Linked DNA regions of Homo sapiens. The protein of the gene in region 1 purifies or fractionates together with the protein of each later gene. This does not show direct contact. Each region holds a gene or a part of one and is shown in the gene's direction. Other genes may lie near its edges.

Region 1 (3,500 bases):
GCTGGGTCTGTCATCCCTACACTTGGGAGGCCAAGGTGGGAGGATCGTTTGAGCTTGGGAGTTTGAAACCAGGCTGGGGAACATAGCAAGACTCTGTCTCTACAAAAAATGTTTTAAAATTAGCCAGCGTGGTGGCACGCCCTTGTAGTCCCAGCTACTTGGGAGGCTGACGTGGGAGGATTGCTTGAGCTCAGGTGGTTGAGGCTGTAGTGAGCCATGATTGTGCCACTGCACTCCGGCTTGGGGCAACAAGAGCCTGGGGCAACGAGAGAGAGAGAGAAGAATAGAGTCCTCTGGCCTAAATGATGCTGGTAGAGTGAAATTGTAACATGAGGAGATACCATGAATAAGAAGATTTATCCATAATTGTAAAATGCACAGGTGGCCAGGCATGGTGGCTCATGCCTATAATCCCAGCACTTGGGGAGGCTGTGGTGGGAGGATCGCCTGAGCCCAGGAGTTTGAGACCAGCCTGGGCACCATGGTGAAACCCCATCTCTACAAAATATACAAAAAATTAGCCAGGGATGGTGGTGTGTGCCTGTAATCCCCGCTACCTGGGAGGCAGAGGTGGAAGGATTGCTTGAGCCTGGGAGGCCAAGGTTGGAGTGAGCTGTGATGATGTCACTGTACTCCAGGCTGGGCAACAGAGTGAGACCCTGTCTCAAAAAAATAAAATGCACTGGTTTGCCCCAAATGTGGCACCATTAGCAGAGGAAGGGCATGCCTCACTAGATTAGTGCATTAAGACTGAGGAGCAAGGCTGACAGTTATTAAAGCTGAGAGAATTTAATTTTGAGGGTACACAAATGCCATCACCAACATTTGTCTTTTCTGATATGACAAGGGATGTCCCTTTTTGGTGGATGCAAGAAATTGTGATCCAAATAGAAATCTGAAGATTGACAGCATTATTTCATTTTCATATTAATTATTTATTTATTTATTTATTTATATTTTTTCGAGACGGAGTCTTGCTCTGTCACCCAGGCTGGAGTACAGTGGCACAATCTCACCGTACTGCAATTTCCGCCTACTGGGTTCAGGTGATTCTCCTGCCTCAGCTTCCTGAGTAGTCACCACACTTGGCTAATTTTGTATTTTTAGTAGAGTCGGGGTTTCACCTTGTTGGCCAGGCTGGTCTCAAACTCCTGACCTCAAGTGATCTGCCCGCCTTGGCCTCCCAAAGTGCTGGGAATACAGGCATGAGCCACTGTGCCTGGCCCATTTTCATATTAATTGTTTAAAAGAAAATTATTTGATTTGCCTGATAGTGTTAATCATTTCTTTTTAAAAAAATTAATTAATTTATTTTTAGAGGTGGGGTCTCGCCATGCTGCCCAGGCTGGTTTTGAACTCGTGGGCTCAGGCAGTCCTCCCAGCGTGGCCTCCCAAAGTGCTCAGATTACAGGCATGAGTCACACCCCCAGCTGGTAATCATTTCATGATGAAACATACAGTTGATCCTTGAACAATTTGGGGGTTAGAGGCGCCAACCCCTGCAGAGACCAGCCGGGGCACCATGGTGAAACCCCATCTCTACAAAATATAAAACTTTGACTCCCCCCAAACTTAATTACTAAAGGCCTACTGTTGATTGGAAACCTTGCTGGTAACATAAACAGTAGATTAACACACATTACATATATATTATATGTATTATATGCTGTATTCATATAATAAAGCTAGAGAAAATAAGGGGAAGATATATTAACTGTTCATTAAGTGAAGTAGATCGTCATAAAACTCTTCATCCTAATCGTCTTCACTTTGAGTAGTCTAAGAGTAGGGGTTGGGTTTTGCTGTCTCTGGGTGGCAGAGGTGGAAGAAAAGGTGCATATGAGTAAACCTTGCAGTTCAAACCTATGTTGTTTAAGGGTCAACTGTGTATCAAAATATCCCTTTGTACACCTTAAATATATATAATTTTTATTTGTCAACTATACCTCAATAAAGGTAGGGGTAGAAACATTTTTAAGATGTTACTTTACAGATTGAAAAAAATTTTAATATTCTTTTCCCAGCCTTATTGAGGTATAATTGACAAATAAAAATTGTATATATTTACATGTTATTTGTAAAGAATAAAGGAGATAATACTTATGAAAGTGCTTATTAGCACAGTGCCTAGACTATACAGATTGAGCATCCCTTATCCAAAAATTTGAAATCTGAAATGCTCCAAAATGTGAGACATTCTAGACACTGACATGACACTCAGAGGAAATGGTTATTGGAGGATTTTGGATTTTCAGATTTGGGATGCTCAACCAATAAGTATTTACAAATATTCCAAAATCTGAAATAAAAAACACTTCTGGTCCCAAGTATTTTAGATAGGAAATTCTCAACCTGTAATAGGTATTCAGTAAATGTTCATTTCCTTCTCTGAAAAATACCAATTTGGTTAAAAAACAAAACAAAAACAAGTTCAATATTAAGGCATTATTACTTCAAACAAGAGTGAGAGTGTGTGTGTTGCTTCTGGGTGGTAGTTGTTTTCCTGTTGGCAGAGACTATATGATGTTATGTAAAAATGGATGACTACTTTTTAGATTCTGAACTCATTTCTGTTCTCTTACTTAGTCCCGACATGCTGACACTGGATGAGCAAGAGCTTATGTGCTTTTACTAATAACTTCTCAATGTTTGGTTTTCAGCATCTTATACAAAACCAAGCTGCCTTTCATTGTGGTCATGAATAAAGTAAGTGTATTCTTCCTGTTGTGATTCACCATTTTTCATCAGAACCTTGTGGTTAGAAGGTTTAGGTGGGTGAGAAAGATTATTTCAGATGCTGGAGACCAGATTCAGGCTTTACTGAAACAAATTCATAGGCACTTCGAGAAAATGAATCAATCAAATTGAATGAGCAATTATTACCAACTCTTGTCTAAAATTATTTTAGGCTAGGTAGAGTAGCACTTCAACCACAGTATGTAGATTATCCCTCAGAGTCAAGATTGTGTAATTACGAGAGGGACAACTAGTCTACTGGAAGTGGCAATTAAAAAATTCTAAACTTCTCTGTTGGTTGATGGCTAGGATGCAAGAGACCTTTTGACTTCAGAGCCTAGAATGTGCTGGTGTCCATTCTGGTCCTGGTACTTGGCAGTGGATAGTGGAGGGTCAACCAAGAGAATACACATCTTCATTTAATTACACTGACTACACAATGATTGTGGTTCTTTGTGGCTTGTTGCAATGGAGGGGAAATAGAAGCAGAGAAAGAAAATATATGGATGATATGTTCTTTGCTGTCAACACTTAATTAAAAGAATAAATTTTGCGTTTGTTGGCTCTGGTTGCTCATAATTGACTTCTCTCTGGTACAGACTGACATCATTGACCACAGCTTTGCAGTGGAATGGATGCAGGATTTTGAGGCTTTCCAAGATGCCTTGAATCAAGAGACTACATACGTCAGTAACCTGACTCGTTCAATGAGCCTGGTGTTAGATGAGTTTTACAGCTCACTCAGGGTAAATTTTCTCTCCTGC
Region 2 (3,500 bases), on another chromosome or scaffold:
TAAGTTTCTCAAGTATGTTGTTTTTTTTTGTGGGGGTGGGGTGTGGTGATTTAAAATGGAATTCCAGGGCTTAGTGTTGGGAATACTAAGGAAAAGAGAGAGAGAAAACTCTCTTCTATCATGACTGCAGAAAATGAATACATTTCCACAAGTAAGTGTAGCAAATAAATTGGTGAATTACAGAGATTCACCAAAACATCAATTCCTCTGCTTTGCAGGGTGGCAAACTTGTGACAGTGGATAACTGTTCTCTTCCTGTTATCTAGACATCAGAGTTTAATGCGAAGTCCTAGTAGGACAGGACTTGGTAACTCCTAGAAGTGTTCCAATATGATTTAGTACATGATTTGTTACCATAGAAAGAATAAATAACATGTTTATTGTCTGAAGAGGATGGATACTTTTACTTTTCCTGTTAAGGTATGAAATATAAGTGCCTTACAATTTCCTTCCTTGCTATAAACAGTGAATTTGAGTGATTTTACTGGAATCTTCAAACCCTGGGTATTTTCTCATTGAAAATTAAATGCATAACCTTGACTGGGAAACAGAGACAGCAGACTAGTGACTTGAAACTAAGACCAATCTTGAGCCTTCAAAGAGAGGACATTACAGGCCCAGTGGTTCTTGCTGAGGAGCCTCCCCTGCAGTGTCCCAGCTGCTCACAACTGACTTTGGGTGGAGCCCTTTATAGTGAGAGAAGCTCAGAGCCCTGGAAAGCTGGGGATTCATAGGCAGAGGTGGTTGAGGTGATGCCTTTCTGAGAATGTACTTGCTATTATCTTGGGTCTGTTTGTAGACGTTTCTAATGAAACAAATCTGGATTTAGGTAAGGAGTGATTTATTTTATTTTTATTTATTTATTTTTTTTGTGTGTGACAGGGTCTCACTCTGTCTCCTAGGCTGGAGTGCAGTGGTGCGATCATAGCTCACTGTAGCCTTGATCTCCTGGGCTCAAGGAATTCTCTCACATCAGCCTCCCAAGTACCTAGGACTAAAGGCATGTGCCATGATGCCTGGCTTATATTTTTAAAAAAGTTTTTTTAAGAGAGACAGGACGTTGTTATGTTGCCCAGACTGGTCTCTAACTCCTGGCCTCGAGCAATCCTCCCACCGTAGCCTCCCCAAATTCCAGGATTATGGGGGTGGGGCGGGGAGCACCACCACACCAGACAGGAATGACTATTCTAAAGGATAATCGAAAGGGGAGAAGGCACCAAGTATAAAATCTTCAAGCATCTCAGGCTGGGCGTGGTGGCTCACGTCTGTAATCCATGCACTTTGGGAGGCCGAGGTGGGTGGATCACAATGTTAGGAGTTTGAGACCAGCCTGACCAACATAGTGAAACCCCATCTCTACTAAAAATACAAAAATTAGCCGGGCATGGTGGTGCGTGCCTGTAATCCCAACTACTCGGGAGGCTGAGGCAGGAGAATCGCTTGAACTCAGGAGGCAGAGGTTGCAGTGAGCCGAGATCGCGCCACTGCACTCCAGCCTGGGCGACAGAGTGAGACTCTGTCTCAAAAAAAAAAAAAAAAAAAAAAAAATCTGCAAGCATCTCAGAGTTTATGCAGAAAAGGATTTTCTTTTGTAGGGAGGAGCAAATGATGAGAAAGAAGGTGGGAGGTGGAAGGCAGGATGCAGGGTGCAAAATCCCACCTAGATCCTGAAGGCAGTCTCTTCTTAGGAGGGTCATCAGAGGGGTTGTATATAGGCTCAGGCTGGGGGTGGGTCAAAGTTCAGGGGCTGGAGGAAGAAGAGAAACTTAACCAAAGTTTTGTTAACAGGTACTTTGTTCTGACTGATCACTGAAGACAGAGCTGTTCAGCTAATCAATTGTGAGGAAAATAAAGGGAATTTCTAGTCTGTGTATGGCTTTGTCATAGGTAAAAAAGCAGTGTCATCTAAGTCATAATGAGAAGAGTGTTTCTTTGCGTAACCTGCTCCTGCAGAATACAAAAGACGGGGGAGTTTCTTTAACCATAGCTATTTCCAGGATTACATACCTGCCCAATCTTCTGCCGCCATTTTCCCTTACATCCATCCCTTCCATTTCGCCATTTCTGATTTATATGCAGTTGCTGAGAAGTATGGGTGATCCCTGGGGCTTGTGACTGGCATCTGCAGTGGGGCACTGTTATGGTAATGAGCCCTGAACTTGTGGGGTCCCCGTTAACTCTGGGTAGTGTCAGAATTGATTTGAATGCTTAATTGGTGTTGGAGAATTGGAGATTTGGTTGTGTTCAGCAAACACCACACATTTGGTGTCAGAAATGGTATATGAAAAAAGACACTAGAGATCAGAACCTTCACCTGGCTCTGGGTAAGTGTTCGCTGGTGAGAATTGAGACCCTGGAGGAGGGAGCATTTCCACACTGTGAGGAGAGGAGAGTGGGTTGTGTGAAACACCTGTGGACTCACTACCCAGGTTCATAAATGGGCATTGGGCATTTCTGGTATGTCCTGATCTTGTCTCCCGTCTGTACCCACAGGTGACCAGGTCCTCATTTTTAAAAGGTGGTTCTTCATAGTTTTACCATCTATTTATCATTAGGCTGAATTTTGCTTGGCTCTTCCTCTTTTGAATTTTTAGTAAGTTATTACCATTAATATTATGCCAAAAAGAGTTTTTTTTTGGTTTCTTTGCCTGTTTGTTTCACGCATGCTGGTTTCTGCATTTAGTTTGGGGGTTAGGATTTCAGCAAATGAAAGTTTGGGCAGGGGATGGTGGTGGAATACAAACATTCAGTCTGTTAACAATCCTAACTGTATTTTGTACGACATCTTGGCTATTCTTAGCCTTTTTTTTTTTTTTTTTTGAGATGGAGTCTCACTGTGTAGCCCAGGCTGGAGTGCAGTGGCGCTCTTGGCTCACCGCAACCTCTGCCTCCGGGCTCAAGTGATTCTCCCACCTCAGTCTCCCAACAAGCTAGGACTACAGGTGCACAGTACCACACCAGCTAATTTTTGTATTTTTTTTTTTTGTGGAGGCGGGGTTTTGCCATGCTGTCTAAGCTGGTCTTGAACTCCTGGGCTCAAGCAGTCCACCCAGCTATGCCTCCCAAAGTGTTGGGATTATAGGTGTGAGCCACTACGCCCGGCCTTATTTTTGTCTGTTTTTTGTGGAAGTGATATCATCCTATATGTTATATTGTATGCCATCTGTCTATTTCACATAGCTGTGAATCTTCCATGAAATGGTATTTTATTCACTATTTTACTTAATAAACTTTATTTTTTAGACCGGTTGTAGTTTGACAGAAAAATTGAACAGATAATACTTAGAGTTTCCTTATTCTCCTCCACAGGTGATTGTTTTCCCCTACTTTTCTTTTTTTTTAAGAGACGAAGTCTTGCTCTGTCACCCAGGCTTGAGTGCAGTGGTGCGATCACTGCTCACTGCAGGCTAGACCTCCAGGGCTCAAGTGATCCTGCCGCCTCAGCCTCCCAAGTAGCTGGGACCACAGGTGTGCACCACCACATCTGGCTAATTTTTTTT
Region 3 (3,500 bases), on another chromosome or scaffold:
ATGGAGCTCAGATTTGGCTACCTGGAGATTTACTCTAACAATTTTGGTGGAATTTGGCACATACATTGACATTCATAAAGCCCTAGGGGTTGGACAAGTGGGTGACTGACAGGGGTGGGACATCCATCCCCAGGAACCTGCTGTCTTTGCCCTCCCTTGGGGAGGGGGCCTAGAAGCAGCTCCATGGTTTGGTTCCCACTCAAAACCTACCAGGTTTATTATAAACAACTTTATTCTTATAAATTTGGCAACTTAGAAGAAATGGACCATGTTCTTGAGAACCACAAACCACTAAAACTCAGCCAAGATGAAACAGACAACCTGAAGAGACCTATGACTATCAAATAAGTGGAATTCATAAATAAAAAGATCCCAAAGAAGAAATCTCCAAGCCCAGGTGATTGCATTGGAGAATTCTATCAAACTTTTAAAATGAGAATTAACATCAATTTTACACAGCCTCTTCCAGAAAATAGAAGGGAAGGGCATACTTCCCAATCCATGCTATGAAGTTGATATTACTCTGATATCAAATGCAGACAAAGACAGTATAAAAAATGTGAAAGAAAAAGAAAATACAGACCAATATCTCCCAAGAACACAGATGGAAAGATTCTCAGCAAAATATTACCAGTCAAATTCGGCAATGTATAAGAAGAATATATGACATGTGTAAGTGGGATTTATCAGTTATTCCAGGTATGCAAGTCTGGGTCCAACTTTAGAAATCAATCAGTGTAATCTATTATATGAAAAGGCTAGGCTGGGCGAGGTGGCTCACGCCTGTAATCCCAGCACTTTGGGAGGCTGAGGTTGGTGGATTGCCTGAGCTCGGGAGTTCGAGACCAGCCTGGGCAACATGGGGAAACCCCGTCTCTAGTAAAATACAAAAAATTAGCTGGGCATAGTGGCGGCATGCACCTGTAATCCCAGCTACTCGGGAGGCTGAGACAGGAGAATCGCTTGAACCCGGGAGGCAGAAGTTGCAGTGAGCCGAGATCGTGCCACTGCACTCCAGTCTGGGGGACAGAGCCAGACTCCATCTCGAAAAAAAAAAAAAAAAAGGCAAAAGAAGAATCACACAATCATATCATTTGACAAAGAAAAAGCATTTGACAAACTCCAACTCTCAGTACACTAGAAATACAGGGAAACTACCTCAACTTGGTAAAGAGCATCTTCAAAAATCCTACAGCTAACATCAGACTTGATGATGAAAGCCTTTCCCCCAAGCTGGGAACAAGGCAAGGATGTCCACTCTCATCCTTAAAGTTCTAACCACTGCCATAAAACAACAAGAAGAAGAAGATAGCTTTTCCCTGGGCTTTTTGCCGAACTGGTTTTTTTCACTCTGACCTCAAATGCCTTCCTAGCGATCTGAAATAACCTTCTTTTCTTGTTTACTATTTCTCCCTGCACTTGTCTGTAAGCTTGTTAAGGTTGGGATCTAGTCTGTCTCATTGCCACGATTTCCCGCTGTCTAGCAGAGCCTGCCCTGTGGTAGGTGCTGAGTAATATTTTTTGAGTAAGTGGAGACTGTGTTGGCATCATTGGCTCTGACTGGCTTCCTGCAATCCATGTGTCACAGTTGCACTGACCCTCTCTTATTTTCCCTTTTGATTCCTGCTATCATGTTGGCTTTGAATTTTGTTTCTGCAAAGGTTCCATAATCCAGGAACCAAGTGTCATGTGTCTTCTATCTCTAAGAGAGTCTCGCTCTCACTCTGTTGCCCAGGCTGGAGTGCAGTGGCAGGATCTTGGCTCACTGCAACCTCCGCCTCCCGGGTTCAGGTAATTCTCCTGCCTCAGCCTCCCAAGTAGCTGGGATTACAGCTGTGTACTGCCATGCCTGGCTGATTTTTGTATTTTTAGTAGAGACAGAGTTTCACCATGTTGTGCAGGCTGGTCTTGAACTCCTGGCCCCAAGTGATCCACCCACTTTGGCCTCCCAAAGTGCTGGGATTACAGGCATGAGCCACTGCGCCTGGTCTTGTTGAGTGTATTTAATTTTCAAAGATTACCCTTTTCTGACCGGGCATGGTGGCTCATGCCTGTAATCCTAGCACTTTGGAAGGCCGAGGCGGGTGTATCACCTGTGGTCAGGAGTTCGAGACTAGCCTGGCCAACATGGCAAAACCCTGTCTCTCGTAAAAATCCAGAAATTAGCTGGGTGTGGTGGTGGGTGCCTATAATCCCAGCTTCTTGGGAGGCTGAGGCAGGAGAATTGCTTGAACCCAGGGAGCGGAGGTTGCAGTGAGCCAAGATCACACCACTGCACTCCAGCCTGGGCGAAAGAGCAAAACTCCATCTCAAAAAAAAAACGCCAAAAAACAAAAAACAAAGATTACCCTTTTTACATTCAGTTACAAGGCTGAGCATATAGTAGGTGCTTAGTAAATATGTGATTAGGCTGAGCATATAGTAGGTGCTTAGTAAATATGTGACTTGTGTAGCTCATCCTGCCTTTCACAGCCCTCTTAGCTCATCATCACAGCCTGCGATAAATAGGCAGGAAAGACCTTCTCATGAGGCCACCTGGAGAGAGGATGGGCCCAAGGACACCTGATGAGTTGGAACATAACCAGGTCCTTCCTGGTTCTCCTCTTGTCATTCTTTGGCCACTGAACAAGCAAGGATTTAATGGTTATGTATTCTGAGAACAGGTATTGAAGGGATTAGGCGTGTAAAACTGGATGAAGTGAGGTGCCAGCGTGGCCTGCTTCTCTTAGGGAGGGGACAAATGCAGAGCCCATGAGACAGGACAGTGATGGACGAGATGAGGAGTCAGGCTCTGGACACGGCTGGCTGGGGTTCACATCCTGGTTTGGGGGTTGGGAGAGGAACGTCACATACCTTGGGGAGAGGTTGGGGTTTCTGTGACCTTGGGCAAGTTATTTCACCTCTTTGTAAATTGATGGTAATGGGTTAGAGAAAAATCACAATGATGATTACATGTAAATCCCCAGAACAAGTGCCTCGAATGTAGTAGTGCTCTATTAGCATAGTAATAAGCGTTAGTTATCATTATTACTTTTTTTTTTTTTTTAGATAGAGTCTCACTTTGTAGCCCAGGCTGGAGTGCAGTGGTGCGATCTCAGCTACTGCAACCTCTGCCTCCTGGGATTCTCGTGCCTCGGATTCTTGTGCCTCAGCCTCTCAAGAAGCTGGGATTACAGGCACGTGCCACCCTGCCTGACTCATTTTTGTATTTTTAATAGAGATGGGGTTTCACCATGTTGGCCAGGCTGGTCTCGAACTCTTGATCTCAAGTGATCCGTCTGCCTCAGCCTCCCAAACTGCTGGGATTACAGGCGTGAGCCACTGAGCCTGGCTGAGATCTTTTTACTCAGTCCACTGATTTAACTGCTGATATCCTCCAGAAAACCTCACAGAACATCCAGAAATCATGTTTGACCAGCTGTCTGGGCATCCCTTAGCCTACTCAAGTTGATAAATAAAATTAACCATCACAGCCCCCACATTAGCTTCCACGGCCGCAT
Region 4 (3,500 bases), on another chromosome or scaffold:
GATTTGGCTAATTTATTTTCCAAGTTCTTTAACTGTATACTAAAGCTGCATATTAAATATTCACAGTATACACTCATGTTAGGCTCAGGGAAGTCCTATAGTAAAGAAATCTATTATTCTTAGATAGACAAATGAATATTAAACACTATTACTATTTGTAGGCCTCCCAATTGACTTTTCTTTCTCTCTGTTTTTGTGTGTTTTGATAGATGTATCAGTTGAGAGTGAACTGGCGCTAGAGAGTCAGACCAAAACTTACAGAGAAAAGGTGAGTGTGATAGAATTAAGATGTGGGACCTTAAGCAAGTTCCTTCTACACCTCGGGTTTCTCCATCAGTGAAATGAGCTTGTTGAACTCAAGGGTCTCCCTGGCTGCTCCCCGCTCATTCAGTCTGTTTCTCTGGACAATTAGTTTGTACCTGCAGAAGCCTCCTTGGTCCCACAGAGAACAGTCTGGCTCCCATCTGGGGCAGCTGAACACAGCTCTGTGCCAATGTTTGGAGTCGGTTCTCTGGGCTGATACAAGTGTAGCATAATGCTTGTTTTTAGGATTTAGTCCAAGTTTTAGAATATATTGGTTGTAGCCTGAAAACATTCACGTTAAAACAAAGTAAACTTGGGGATTTTCAATGTAGAAGGTCCCTACAAAGGTCATCTCACCCCAAGATGACAAACTGATTGAATCTTTGGTGCTGTGTGGAGCACTGTATTGAGAAGGGTTGTGAGGCTACTTTTTGCTTCAGGGGGAAGGAGTCAGTGATCTATTAGCCCTGTCTGTTACGGGTGTAAGATGGGAGAATTACCATTCTACTATTCCTGTCTGTTACGGGCATAGGATGGGAGAATGGTAAGCCATGTGCTACAGATTTGCCAGCCCTAATCCTAGTCAAGTCTTTATATCTTACTGATGGAGATGCTGTTGATTGATCAATCTGTTAATATCATTTGGTGCTTACAGCAGTCCTGTGAGGTAAATAGGTGCGATTCAGCCTTATTCACAGGTGAGGTAGTGATCACTCTGGGATGCTGAGAGTATCCCCATAGTGACACAGCTAGGAGGGGCAGCACCTACCTGTCCTGTCCCCAGTAACCAGGTTTATCTCATAAACAGATGGATTCTTGTATTGAAGCCTTTGGTACCACCAAACAGAAGCGAGCTCTGAACACCAGGAGAATGAACAGAGTTGGCAATGAATCTTTGAATCGTGCAGTGGCTAAAGCTGCAGAGACTATCATTGATACGAAGGGTGTGACTGGTAAGAAGTTGGAACTTGGGCTAAGAGTCTGCCCATAATGACAGCTTTCTCTTCTCTTGAGATCTTTTACCCACCCACACATGGAATGCTGGGAGCTAGGGCTGGATTCCTTTCAGCCTCTTGCTGAAGGCCTTCTCACGGACAGGTTCTGGAAGTAGTAAGAAACATCCGACATGGCTTTGTCTTCTAGTGATCCACAGTCAAGTACAGGGACAGGCATGGAATGGATACATGCCTGCCGTGCTTATGGTGCTGGGGTTATGGCCTGCAGGGCACAGAGGAGGGAGAAGGCCTCAGGTCTCTCCTTGTGCGTTGCAGGGAAGCTTTGGTCAAAAAGGCTGATGTGTTGATGGAAATGAGCCTCCAGAGGTGGCATTTCACTTTGGGATCAGTGGCTCTGTTTCCGGTATTCAGCAGCTGGAGTATTTAATTGTATTATTTTAAAATGTATTTATTGTTCAAATACATTATAAGAACATAAGAGCAAGTTTGTGTAAGAGTAGCTTTTCTTTTTACCGATTTTGGAGATGAGGTCTTGCTATGTTGCCCAGGCTGATCTTGAACCCTTGGCTTCAAGCAGTCCTCCCGCCTCAGCCTCCCAGGTAGCTAGGATTATAGGCGCACACCACTGTGCCCTGGGCAGAGCAGTTTTTCTATTAAGAATGAAATTCTAGTAATTTTTGGAAAATCTTTCCATACCCTATGATTATATAGATTTCAACACTTTCACAAATTTATTTATTGATTGATTGGAGATGGGGTCTTGCTCTATCACCCAGACTAGAGTGCAGTGGTGCAGACATGGCTCACTGCAGCCATAACCTCCTGGGCTCAAGTGATCCTCCTACTTCAGCCTCCCAAGTGGCTGGGATCACAGATGTGTGCCACCATGCTCAGCTAATTTTTTTAGTTTTTTGGAGAGACAGGGTCTTGCCATGTTGCCTGGGCTGGTCTCAAACTTCTGGGCTCAAGCCATCCTCCCGCCTTGGCCTTCCAAAATGTTGAGGTTACAGGTGTGAGCCACCACACCTGGCTGCGGAGTTATTCTTGTGGGGCAGTTACAGTGTTATATTCTGAAAGTTTTGTTCCACCTACAATGTGTGGCAAGTTTTTCTAGAAGTTAAGCCATTAAAGGCTATTTTGGACGTCCCTCACTTTTAGTTTCTCTCATTTTATATTGTAAATGTTTATGTATTAGCACAGCTGTCAATCCCAACTCTATTGTAAGTTACCTGAGGGGAATCTTGTCACCTCCACCTTCTCCAGTGCCTAGCTTGTGTTTGTTCATGAGTGAACATGGCAGTCCTGAAGCAGTCAGCCTGATGGGGAGGCGAGGTCACTTTGGCAGAAGCATTTAGACTTGGGGTTTCTGGACCATTGGTGGTCTGAAGTGCACAGACTGAAAAGAATGTTGGGGAACTGGAAACAAACAGGGTGATACATGGATTGTTTCTTTATTGAAAAGCTCTGGTCAGCGATGCTATCCACAATGACTTGCAAGATGACTCCCTCTACCTTCCTCCCTGCTATGATGATGCAGCCAAGCCTGAAGACGTGTATAAATTTGAAGATCGTATCCTTCTTGCAGTAGAAAAGCTGCCTTATTTCACAAGTTGAGATGTTTGCACGTGTGTGCAGTCAGGTTCTCTGAGGGTGTCTGTGTTCTGTGACATTCACAAGAGCTCCATCCAAACCTTTGCAGTTGCTCAGTGCTCTTGCCAGGAGGTTAACTTGGCTTCCTCACTAGCTGAGGGACCGGCCCCTGGGATTCAAATCCATTCCTCAGCAAAATGCCAAATGCCCACAGCTTAGACCTGTGGGGCTCACTCTCCATGGAGAGTCAAAATAAGAGTTGAACCAGCCAAATGCCCAAAGTCTAGGGCAGACCACTTTTGTTGAAGGAAGGGTTGGAGCTTAGAATTTCACCACCCAAGGGGTCCGGTCAGAAGGAAAATGCCTGCAGTGGCTTTGTGATGAGAAAAAGCAGAAAAGCCTGGGCAGGGAATGGGCTCTGGGCTGGGAGTCGGAGAACTGAGTCACCAAGCTCTGCCCCTATGTGATCTGCCCTGTGTGATCTTTGGCTCTCTGAGCCTGTTTCCCTGTCTGTGAAATGCCACTGCTATGAGATGACCTAGCTAGTTGGATGTTTCTATTTTGGTTGGATTATATTCTTGACCTGTAACTAGTTCTTTCCCCTGCGGAGTATGAAGCTCTTCAGAGCCCATCTGAAGCTTTCAGGAACGT
Region 5 (3,500 bases), about 85 Mb from region 1:
AAGACTGAAGTCATTTTAGGGGACAGAAAGGCAAGATAGGTTGAGCCTGTCTGATAAAGAGAAGTACCCTGTTTTTCTTCCATACTTTTTTCCCATGTCCCTAGGACCTTTGTAATATACTTGAGAAAACTGTTAATTCACACAAAGACAGTGTCTGTGTACTGTTTTCAAGGGATCAGTAGTACATTTCACCTCTGTGTTCCTATTCTGTGTGTTGTACTACCTTTGGCTAGGAGTGAGGTTCATGTTTACAGTTAGTCATGTATCTTTGTTTAACAAGTTGCAATTCATCTTTTTGGCAGGAAATGGGGGGCTATTTTATAATCAATGGCATTGAAAAAGTCATCCGAATGTTGATTATGCCTCGGAGAAATTTTCCCATTGCAATGATAAGACCAAAATGGAAAACCAGAGGGCCTGGTTATACTCAGTATGGTAAGTTCTGGAGATTATTAGAATATTTTTTAAGGAAAATTTAAAACTTTTTTTTTTTTTGAAGTAGATGCATCCAAATGGTCTTTGATATTTTTGTTTCTTTTTTTTTTTTTTTTTGGTAGGGATGGGGTTTCACCACGTTGCCCAGGCTGATCTCGAACTCTTGGGCTCAAGCAGTCCTTCTGCCTCAGCCTCCCAAAGTGCTGAGATTACATGCATGAGCCACCGTGTCTGGTCTTTCTTTTGTTTTTTGTTGTTTTTCTATTGAGCATTCTTGTGTTAAGTTTTCATAATTGGGATGGAAGAAGAAATGGAGAGATGTTAGTCAGAGGATACAGACTTGCAGTTACAAGATGAATAAGTTCTGGGGATCTGATGTACAGCCTGGTGATGATAGTAATACTGTACTGCTTAAAATTGATGAGTACATTTTAAGTGTCTCAACCACACACGCGTGCACACGTACTACAAATGATAACTATGGTGATTGATGTTTTCATCAGTTTGATTGTGGAAATCATTATAATATATGTATATGTATATTCAAGGTATTGTACACCTTGAATATATATGATTTTTATCAATCATAAGCATTTTAAAATTCACTTTTGCTAACTGAAAGAGCATGTGTATTTTTGTTACTACTTATGAAGATGAAAGCTAGTCTGGCTTGGCCATAAGTGGGTGTGGGTCTTGGCTGTCTTCTGGTTCAGGCTGCTGCACTTTTGCAAACTGAAAGAGCATGTGTATTTTTGTTACTACTTATGAAGATGGAAGCTAGTCTGGCTTGGCCATAGGTGAATGTGGGCCTTGGATGTCTTCTGGTTCAGGCCACTGTGGTACACCCCTCAGGGTCTCTGTCTGACAGCCACCTGGCCTCTGTTGGAACATTCTCTTTGACAATGCCTAAGACAGCATGTTGTATTCTTGAGCAACCCTGACAGTTAAACAATTTGTCCTGATAGTTGAGCTAAAAATCAGACCTTAATTATAGCCATACATACTATACCTAGAAAAACAGCATGCCTGAATGTCTAGTGATTTTCTTTTGCATCAGTTGATGGTAGTATGTCTTAGCAGTCTTTGCCTGAAACTGAAATAAAATCTAAAATTCTACTTTTCTCCATTGGAACTATTAGATCAAGCACCATGTCTTGACCAGACTCCACAGTTTAAGGCAGATATAAAGTGCTAAAAGATGTGGACTCTGTCCTGGAGGGAAACTTTGAAGTTTGCTTAAATTCATAGTTTCGGTTATTTTACATTAGTGTTTCTCAATCTGGGTAGATTTTGCATGCAAGAGGACATTTGCTGAGGTTTAGAAACATTTTTGATTGCCAGTCTTGGCTAAACTTAGTGATTTGGCTTTAATTGTGTCTAAGAGGTTAAGATTGTTCAGAAAGAAAATGGTTGAAGCAATTAAGATATCAATGAGTTTCTGATTTTTTTGTTGTTTGGTTCAATAGGAGTTTCAATGCACTGTGTGAGGGAAGAACATTCCGCTGTCAATATGAACCTCCACTACTTGGAAAATGGCACTGTTATGTTGAACTTTATTTACCGAAAAGAACTGTTCTTTCTTCCTTTGGGATTTGCACTTAAGGTATGACTTAATGAATGCATTCTTTTGTTATGAAGAAATTCACTGGGGGTAGTATCCTGTGCACATTGGATGGATTCTCCTTGTTAAAATAATACTGTACTAGTTGTCTACTGCTCCAAAACAAATTACGTCAAAATTCAATAGCTTAAAACTCAATAACATTTCTGTCTCACAGTTTCTGCGGGTCGGGAGTTTGGGAGTGCTTTGGCTGGGCACTTGTGGCCCAGGGTCTCAGGAGGTTGCATGGAGATGTCAGACAGGACTGCAGTCATTTTCAGGACTTCCAAGGTGGCTCACTCACATGGCTGGCAAATCTGCTGGTTGGTGGCAGGAGGTCTCCTCATGGGGTTGCTCTCTACATGGCCCTTTCTGTAGGCTGCTTGAGGCAACTGTCTTCCTCCATATAGTTAGCTGAGAGAACAGAGAGCAGAAGATGCAGAAGGAAAAAGCTGCAGTGCCCTTTGTGATCTAGCCCTGGGAGTCTCCCATTATCTTTTTCACCACATTCTCTTGGTCAAGCAGGCCAGCCTTGATTCGGCATGGGAGGAAACTACACGTTTGTGAACACCAGGAGATGAGGACCCTGGAGGCAATTGTGCTGTCTGGCTATCATACAAAGAATGCTTTATTTTAGAGAGTTTACTTTGATTCAGCAATAGCAGAGTGCTAATTTTCCTTGGGTATTAAAAAAATGAGAGAAGATAATTATTAGTGAATAGATAAAGTATTTTAGTTATTAGTGAGCAATTAAACCTTTTATTTTCTATTCTAGGCACTTGTCAGCTTTTCTGATTATCAGATCTTTCAGGAGCTCATCAAAGGAAAAGAGGATGATTCTTTCCTTAGGAACTCTGTTTCTCAGATGTTAAGGATTGTAATGGAAGAGGGTTGTTCGACACAAAAACAGGTCCTTAACTACCTAGGTGAATGCTTCAGAGTAAAACTCAATGTTCCTGACTGGTACCCAAATGAGCAAGCTGCGGAGTTCCTGTTTAAGTATGTGTGCTTTGTCTAAACTGTTTTTGGAGGGGCGGAGGGCTGTCAGTGGTTCTTTGTATTGGTTGCAGTTTGGGCGGGCGAGTCATTTGGGAATGAGAATGAATCTTGGGGTAGAATCCTGGTCCTTGCTAGCCGGGGGCTACCTTTGTTTTTGCGGCCCTCCTCACTTGTATTTTTTTAGTAGTCGTGTTTTATTTTATAGTACTTTTTAACTTTTATTTTGAAATAATTTCAGACTTCCAGAATAATGTCCAAATAGTACATTGGATTCTAATTGTGAACATTTCATTCATTTACATTTACTTTTTTACTTTCTGTGTACACAGATGTACATTTTTCTTTCTGTACAATCCCTGAAAGTTGCAGGGATTGTATCACTTTATTTCTCCAAAGCAAGGACTTTGTCTTATATAACCACTGTATAATTACTAAAGAAGCCAGCTCCATACTGGTGCTGTCCAGT
Region 6 (4,171 bases), on another chromosome or scaffold:
TCGCTCTGTAGCCCAGGCTGGAGTGCAGTGGCGCAATCATGGCCCACTGCAGCCTTGACCTCCTGGACTCAAGTGACCTTCCTGCCTCTGCGATAGTTTTTCATGGATGCTTCTAGTAGTTTTTTGGAGGTATGGTGTGTTAGGAACAAACTGCCCCAAAAAGCTTCTTGGTACTGCCGACACTTCCCCCAAACCTCTCCGTGCTGCTCACTCCTCCCCCTAATGCTCTGCAACTCTTCTCCTTCCCCCAAGCCTCTTTACACTTCTAAGTCCTTATGAAGCCAGCAGACTTCACTTATCAGACCTTGCTGCAATAAACAAACCCCAATTACAAATCATCCGGACCGCACAGGGGAAGGTGATGGGAAGCATAAACAAACTTTACCTACACCCTCCTGTAATAAACGTCACAAGCTAATATGTGGCAAAATTAACCAGCAAACAACCCCAGGGTCTCTCTCCCCCATATAAACCCCTCATTTTGTAAGCTCAGGGGTGCCTCCTCTGTCTGTGGTGGAGCAGCCGTCAGGTTAATAAACTTCCTCGGCTGACCTTGGGTCTCTCTTTCGTCCTTTCTCTCGGCTAACCTTATATGGTGATAGATTGGAAACTTTTTTTTTTTTGAGACGGAGTCTTGCTCTGTCGCCCAGGCTGGAGTGCAGTGACCCGATCTCAGCTCACTGCAAGCTCCGCCTCCCGGGTTCATGCCATTCTTCCGCCTCAGCCTCCCGAGTAGCTGGGACTACAGGCGCCCGCCACCACGCCCGGCTAATATTTTGTATTTTTAGTAGAGACGGGGTTTCACCGTGTTAGCCAGGATGGTCTCGATCTCCTGACCTCGTGATCCGCCCGCCTCGGCCTTCCAAAGTACTGGGATTAGGGGCGTGAGCCACCGCGCCCGGCCGATTGGAAGCTTTTAAGAACTCCTTCTCCTATTTTGAGAATTCAGAAATTTATTTATAGCTTTCGTAAAATAGAGTGAAGACTCTTACAGACCTATGTTAGACTAGCAGGCGCTCAGTCTCTGTGGTCCGAGATAGAGCACGAAGATGACAGTGTATATGCATTTTGGTGCTGAAGTGGACCTGGAGTGTGGACAGAGGAGTTACTAAGAAGAATCCCGGAGACCAGGATGTAAACTCTCAATTCTAATCAACACAGGTGTGGGCTATGGTTCTGAGACACCATTCATCTCACACGAGGTACGGCGATACGCGACACCACCCAGTACAACAGCTCTCTCTCCACCTGGAACCCGGACCCAGCTTGATTCGCGGGTGCCGGATGATGACGTATCCTTGCACCTGGCGATGATTGGTTCGCGTGGAGAGGCGTCGTCCGACAACGCGACTCGGAACCCGGACCTATGTTCTCGCGAGAGTTAGCGGCCTCCGGTGTGGGATGGCCGCGGAGCCGGGCGGAGCTGGCTTGCGGCTCCCGGGGCCGGCTCTCCGGCCGGAGACATGGCCCGGGGGCCCGGCCCGCTAGGCAGGCCTCGCCCCGATACGGTCGCCATGCCCAAGAGAGGAAAGCGACTCAAGTTCCGGGCCCACGACGCCTGCTCCGGCCGAGGTGGGCGAGGGGGGCAGGGGCGCTGAAACATTTTGGGGGCTGGCGGCTGGGAGGGGGCTGGACCGTGCCGAGGTGAGCGCTCGCGTGCCCGCGGCTGGAGGGCGGCTCGGTCCGGGGGCCTGCAGCGAGGAGGAGGTGTTGGCGGGGAAGACGCTGACGAGAGAAGGCCTCTTCCTTGAGGGTTGGTGCTGTGTTGCAGTGACCGTGGCGGATTACGCCAACTCGGATCCGGCGGTCGTGAGGTCTGGACGAGTCAAGAAAGCCGTAGCCAACGCTGTTCAGCAGGAAGGTAAGCTTTGCGCGAGCCTTTAAAGACTCATGCCGCGAAGACAGAACTAGGTATTTTATTTCTGTTTTTCTTGCAGTCCTTTAGTCGTCTTCCTGTAACCGTGTTTGCTTTCGTTAGTGTTAACTTACATATTGGGGTGGAGGAGGATTAGTCAAGAGTAGCAGTTTCTGTAGCAGAAATATTTTCTTTCTTTCTTTGCATTTAAAAACATGTTTGCATACTTTTTAGTTTCCACTGCATTCTTCTTGGTTATTAATCTCTTTGCTGTAGTTCACATGTTTTACTCTGCAGTTTGCTTCCTTGTTTAATAACCTTGGAGTGTTCTTTTCCTTTTCTGGTGTTTCTCTTGCTTTCAGTCTGTTTACTCATGGGTCTGAGACTTGTGTTTTATGACACCTACTGCCTCCAGCTCAGGACCAGGATTAAATTGGATTCAATTTGTCTCAAACATTTCTCTGTAGACCTTATGAGAATACAAATCAGCTTTTATCCTGCAGGGTTTATAGTGGAAAAATTGTACACACCTTTTTTCTTCAGGGCTGAAAAAAGGAGTTTCTGCAACTTTGGAGTCAGTTTGCCCATTGCTTTCCTTTTTTTTTTTTTTTTTTGTATTTAAAATACTAAAATCTTTATTTTTTTTGGTGACAGATTCTCACCTTTCTCTCTCAACGATGTTTTTTTTCCCCCCTTTCCTGAATGGATGCTGATACCTTGGCTAAGTTGTTTGTATTTCTGGGTGGAGCTGTGTGCCATCTCATTCTCCTTTTATTTTCTTCTAGTAAAATCTCTTTGTGGCTTGGAAGCCTCTCAGGTTCCTGCAGAGGAAGCTCTTTCTGGGGCTGGTGAGCCCTGTGACATCATCGACAGCAGTGATGAGATGGATGCCCAGGAGGAAAGCATCCATGAGAGAACTGTCTCCAGAAAAAAGAAAAGCAAGAGACACAAAGGTATGGAGCTTGTTCTCTTTTGGTTTATTAGACCTGCCTGTGGTGACAAATTGAAGATGTTACTTTCCCAGTAGCACAGGAGGAGATATAAGACGTGATACCAGGAGAGTTTAAAGAAAACTTGGCTCTCCCTAAGAACCTTGGTAGTGGGCCGGGATTTAATACACCTGGGCTTTCTTTTTTCTTTTGTCTGAATTCGAGAGGGAAAGAGATTAGTACGTGTTAGTAGAGTTCTGGAGCTGTGAACTGGACTCTAGTAGCCCTTCATTGAGAACATGTTATTATCAGGTAAAAACCCATAAGGCAATGTGAAAATAAAAGGCCTTTGCATTTCTGGATTTCTGAATGTGTAAGGAAGCAGAGATGTAACCAAAAAATGTTTTCCAAAGTATGTGGATTTTACGTTAACTAGTTTTGTTACACACAAACATAGACATTATCGTGGGCTTTTAAGTGCTCTGCAATTAGTAATGTCTGCTTTATGTCTAATAAGTATTGTGGGAAATAGAAAAGTAGGTGATTTTTTTATATCCTAATGGCAATGAAATGTACACAAATGAAACAAAGAATAATAAACTGATGATAATATAACGTGCCAAACCATCATTCAGATTCTGGGTTTTCCTTCAGACTTAATGAGTCAGAATCTCTTGGGGTGGAACTCAGAATTTTTATTTATTTATTTTTTTGAGACAGGGTTTTGGTCTCTTGCCTGGGCTGGAGTGTAGTGGAAAGATCATGGCACACTGCAGCCTTGACTTCCCAGGCTTAAGCGATCCCCCCATCTTAGCCTTTTGAGTAGCTGGGACTACAGGTGCTATGCCATCATGCCTGCTAATTTTTTCTATTTTTTGTAGAGACAGGGGTCTCACTATGTTGCCTAGGCTAGATTTGAGCTCCTGGGCTCAAGCAGTCCACCCACCTTGGCCTCCCAAAGTGCTGAGATTACAGGCATAAGCTACCATGCTTAGCCCAGAATTTTTAAAGCTAAAGTGGTTCTGATGATCAGCTACGTTTAGGTGAAAGCCGATAAATAATGGTGAGGCCAGGCATGGTGGCTCACGCTTGTAATCCCAACACTTTGGGAGGCTGAGGTGGGCAGATCACAAGGTCAGGAGTTCGAGACCATCCTGGCCATTATGGTGAAACCCTGTCTTTACTAAAAATACAAAAATTAGCTGGGCGTGGTGGTGTGCACCTGTAGTCCCAGCTACCAGGGAGGCTGAGGCAGGAGAATCGCTTGAACCTGGGAGGCGAAGGTAGCAGTGAGCCGAGATTGCATTGCACCACCACATCTCCAGCCTGGTGACAGAGCAAGACTCTGTCTCAAAAAAAAAAAGAAAAAAATAATAGTAAATGATGT
Region 7 (3,500 bases), on another chromosome or scaffold:
AGGCTTAGGGCATAATCTTCTCTGGGAGCCTTGATTGAGAGGGGCTGGTAGGTAATGTGGCTTAAATGTTGCTCATTAGTTTTGCTCTTTCTTTTTTTCCAAATTCAGCTAAGGAGTATAACAAGTTTTACGCTCTCTCTCTCTTTTTTTCTTGTATGTTCTCTGGAACATGGAATAAAAAGGACAAAAAATTGGCAACCTGAGGAAGAGGACAGACAAGGGGCATGAACAAGCCACAACCTCTAAGTGACAATATCTGTAGTCAGCGGTTAGGATCAAATATTTTAACATTGCTTTCACTTACAGTCAATGGTGAAACATTTCCAAAACAATTTATTTTAGTTAGAACTTCGGTTTGTTTCTATTTTGATCTAGCAATAAAACATGTAAGAAACATTCCCTGCAGCTTTGTTTATAAAGAGAAAAACTAAAAGTCTGACATTGGGGGATTGGTTAAATAAATCAGGAGCTGTTACGTAGGCATTGAAAACTAGGACAGTATGTATAGGGTGGTTCCAGTTACGTTTATATAAATATTTACACATTTTACATAGGAAAACACCATTGTTTTAAAAGTACACAATTTTATTATTTTACCTAAAAGTTTGTAAAATTGGATGGGATTTTTTTTTTTCCAAAAAAAGCTATTGATAAAACTTATTTTAATTTTAACGAAAATTGGAATGTTACTTTAATTGCAAAACACTTTCTGAGCCTGAAAAATGGCTCTTGGCTGGTTTGAATGCCGGTTAGGCAGGTTTATTTCTTGGTTACTTCAGAGCTGATATATATAATTTATTCAAACAACCATCTTCCAGTTGATTTCCTTCCCCCCCCCAAAGGTTTTATTTAATCTTCATTTGTTATAAGATACAGGGAGAGGAGAGAAATTCAGATCATCCTTTTTTTGTCTTTAACTAAATCTGTTTTTACTAACAGCAGTAAAATATTTGTTGGAAAAATGGAAGCTTAACCTGTCTAGACTGTGACCTATACCATAAAATGTGTGGTCTAGGACTGTTGTGGAGTGTCTTGGGCTGTTCAGGGAGGTTTCCTTGTACTAAGATCTTGTTAAATCTGATTCTAAGAATTGCATTATGTTGAAATTTTTGTTTCTTGGCTAAGGTGATGTTTCTGAGATACCTGTATTTTATCTCTAGATACTATTAGCTTTTATTAGCAGAACTACTGAGATTTTATTGTAATATTTTAAAAAGTGGTGGATCCAGTATCGTTTTTATAGGCTTATTTGCAGGATAATAGTAAGATTAGAAAATTCATTAGGATAATATATTTATAATTGAGTGCCTCATGTAGTTCTCACTTGGAATTTTGGAATAGCTTATACTTCCTGATATAGATCCTTGGGGAATTAAATGCATTAAGAGTAAATATTTTAAATTTTTTATAAAGCAGAACAGCTAATTTAACTTAATGGAGGGTTTTCATATTTCTTGTGATAAACTAAACTGCACATAGTTTAAAGAACTGTCAGCCACGTAGGCCATATAACAGCTATTCTTTCCAAGCCTAGAATCCATGCCATAGAATTTATGTAACAAATATTTAATGAGTATCTACTACATGCCAGGCATGTTCTGCTGAGTGTGCAGTAATGAACAAAATACAGCAAGTTCTTTCTTTCATGGTTACACTCTAGGGGTGAAGGCATGCAGTTACATAGCCTTACCTTGGGTGTTTGGTAGGTAAGGCTAAGTAGAAAAACAGGAAGGTAAGAGGCGTGTAGAGAATGAGGGATGTGAGTGGAGGGATGGTGTCTTCTGTAAGCCATCAGAGAGGGCTTCTCTGTTAGGTTCCATTTGAGCAGAAACTTGAAATAAGTGGGGAGTGAGCTGTGTGGATATATGGAGGATATTTTAGAGAAGAGCTTTCTAGCCAGTATGAGAGCAGTACCAGATCATTGTAAGAGTTTTGGTTTTCATATTTGTGAGATGGGAAACGATTGGAATGTGTTTTGAGGCTGATCTTAAATTATATCCATTTGTCATGCATATGTGAAGAAATGGACGGATGGAATTACATTATAGGGAGCAACTCTGTGTGCCACGCATTGTGATAGATGTTTACAGATCCGATCTTAGAATTTTCATTAATACTGTTTATTTTTCAGATGAACAGTTTGTTTCTAGTTTTTGCCTGGAACTTTCTCATGGCGTGTTTGTGTCTTCAGTTCCACTTAGAATGCTTTTTCTAAGGTGGTTATACCAGTTTACCGCTTGCTAGCAGTGGACAGAAGTTCTCCCTGCTTCAGTCTTTACCACCATGTGTCTTTTCATATTTGCTAGCCAATCTAGTGATGAGTAATGAGGTTGATGACCTTTTCAGATGTTTATTGGCTACTTGGATTTTTGTGTTTTGTTTTTGTGAAATACCTGCTCATCTGTTAACTACTTTCTATTGGGATGTTAGTTATATTCTAATTGATTCATAGTAATGACTGCCTTTCCAATTATATATTGTAAGTTTCTTCCCTGGTCTGTGGCTTGACTTGGAGCACTTACAGTGGTGTCTGTCCTTTGATCAACAGACATTTTTAATTTTAACAATTGTTTCCTTCATGGTTAGTGTTTTTTGTCTTATTTTTAAGAGGTCTTTCTTACTACTTTTCTGAAGATATCCTCTTATATTGTCTAATAGAAGCTTTACTGCTTTGCTTTTCACATTGAGAATCTACATTCTACCTGGAATTGGCTTTGTATATGGGGGAGATTGAGGTCAGGTTTCATTTTTACTGTATGGATACCTAGTTGTCCCATCAGCATTTATTGGAAAGAGTGTCATGTCTCCACCGCATTGTCATCTTTGTCATAAATCAGGTGACTGTGTAAGTAGATCAGTTTCTTGACTGTTCTGTTGGCTTGTCTGTTCTTGCAGCAAACCTACACTGTCTAAATCATTATGACTTTGTGTTATCTTGGTACCTGGTACATGGTGGTGTAGTTTTAGTTGTGGTTCCTCAAGATTGCCTTTATTTTCTCCTTTCCAGTCCGTATGCTGTTTCTTTCTTTTTCTTGCTTTTGATACTGGCCAGTTCAAGTGCTGGTAGTGGGCATCAGGGGTCAACTTTTAAACATTTACCATTAAGTGTGGTATTTACTGTGAGTAATTTTTGTATTTGCTTTTATCAGATTAAGGAAATTTCCTTATATTCCAAGTTTGCTATGAGTTTTTATGAGTGGGTGTTGAATTTTAGAAATGCTTTTTCTAAATTGATTTAATTATGGTAATTTATTGAAAAGAGTATATTTGTTCTGTAAGTTCTGTAACTTCAATAAGTAATGTTGAAGTTACTTTTTTTTGCCTTCAAGCATCTGTTTAACAAAGCACATCTTGCACCACCCTTAATCCATTTAACCCTGAGTGGACACAGCACATGTTTCAGAGAGCACGGGGCTGGGGGTAAGGTTATAGATTAACAGCATCCCAAGGCAGAAGAATTTTTCTTAGTACAGAACAAAATGTAGTCTCCTATGTCTACT

The links.
Region 2: the proteins of GPN1 (region 1) and ZNF627 purify together in Homo sapiens (co-immunoprecipitation; one large-scale study listed by IntAct). This does not show direct contact.
Region 3: the proteins of GPN1 (region 1) and LRRC20 purify together in Homo sapiens (affinity purification with mass spectrometry; one large-scale study listed by BioGRID and IntAct). This does not show direct contact.
Region 4: the proteins of GPN1 (region 1) and POLR1E purify together in Homo sapiens (affinity purification with mass spectrometry; one large-scale study listed by BioGRID and IntAct). This does not show direct contact.
Region 5: the proteins of GPN1 (region 1) and POLR1B purify together in Homo sapiens (affinity purification with mass spectrometry; one large-scale study listed by BioGRID and IntAct). This does not show direct contact.
Region 6: the proteins of GPN1 (region 1) and TMEM183A purify together in Homo sapiens (affinity purification with mass spectrometry; one large-scale study listed by BioGRID and IntAct). This does not show direct contact.
Region 7: the proteins of GPN1 (region 1) and URI1 purify together in Homo sapiens (affinity purification with mass spectrometry, with the first as the bait; one large-scale study listed by BioGRID). This does not show direct contact.

The regions. Positions count from the first base shown.
Region 1 is NC_000002.12:27,635,550-27,639,049, forward strand, and holds part of GPN1 (GPN-loop GTPase 1), read left to right. Parts: intron 1-2,660; coding exon 2,661-2,706; intron 2,707-3,335; coding exon 3,336-3,482; intron 3,483-3,500. UniProt on the Homo sapiens protein: Small GTPase required for proper nuclear import of RNA polymerase II (RNAPII). May act at an RNAP assembly step prior to nuclear import.
Region 2 is NC_000019.10:11,600,483-11,603,982, forward strand, and holds part of ZNF627 (zinc finger protein 627), read left to right. Parts: intron 1-3,500. UniProt on the Homo sapiens protein: May be involved in transcriptional regulation.
Region 3 is NC_000010.11:70,327,126-70,330,625, reverse strand, and holds part of LRRC20 (leucine-rich repeat-containing protein 20), read left to right. Parts: intron 1-3,500.
Region 4 is NC_000009.12:37,492,448-37,495,947, forward strand, and holds part of POLR1E (DNA-directed RNA polymerase I subunit RPA49), read left to right. Parts: intron 1-209; coding exon 210-268; intron 269-1,111; coding exon 1,112-1,256; intron 1,257-2,721; coding exon 2,722-2,829; intron 2,830-3,442; coding exon 3,443-3,500. UniProt on the Homo sapiens protein: Component of RNA polymerase I (Pol I), a DNA-dependent RNA polymerase which synthesizes ribosomal RNA precursors using the four ribonucleoside triphosphates as substrates.
Region 5 is NC_000002.12:112,548,965-112,552,464, forward strand, and holds part of POLR1B (DNA-directed RNA polymerase I subunit RPA2), read left to right. Parts: intron 1-302; coding exon 303-435; intron 436-1,901; coding exon 1,902-2,038; intron 2,039-2,810; coding exon 2,811-3,034; intron 3,035-3,500. UniProt on the Homo sapiens protein: Catalytic core component of RNA polymerase I (Pol I), a DNA-dependent RNA polymerase which synthesizes ribosomal RNA precursors using the four ribonucleoside triphosphates as substrates.
Region 6 is NC_000001.11:203,006,003-203,010,173, forward strand, and holds the start of TMEM183A (transmembrane protein 183A), read left to right. Parts: upstream 1-1,371; 5' UTR 1,372-1,463; coding exon 1,464-1,572; intron 1,573-1,628; exon of another isoform or gene 1,629-1,771; coding exon 1,772-1,861; intron 1,862-2,640; coding exon 2,641-2,808; intron 2,809-4,171.
Region 7 is NC_000019.10:29,945,239-29,948,738, forward strand, and holds part of URI1 (unconventional prefoldin RPB5 interactor 1), read left to right. Parts: intron 1-3,500. UniProt on the Homo sapiens protein: Involved in gene transcription regulation. Acts as a transcriptional repressor in concert with the corepressor UXT to regulate androgen receptor (AR) transcription.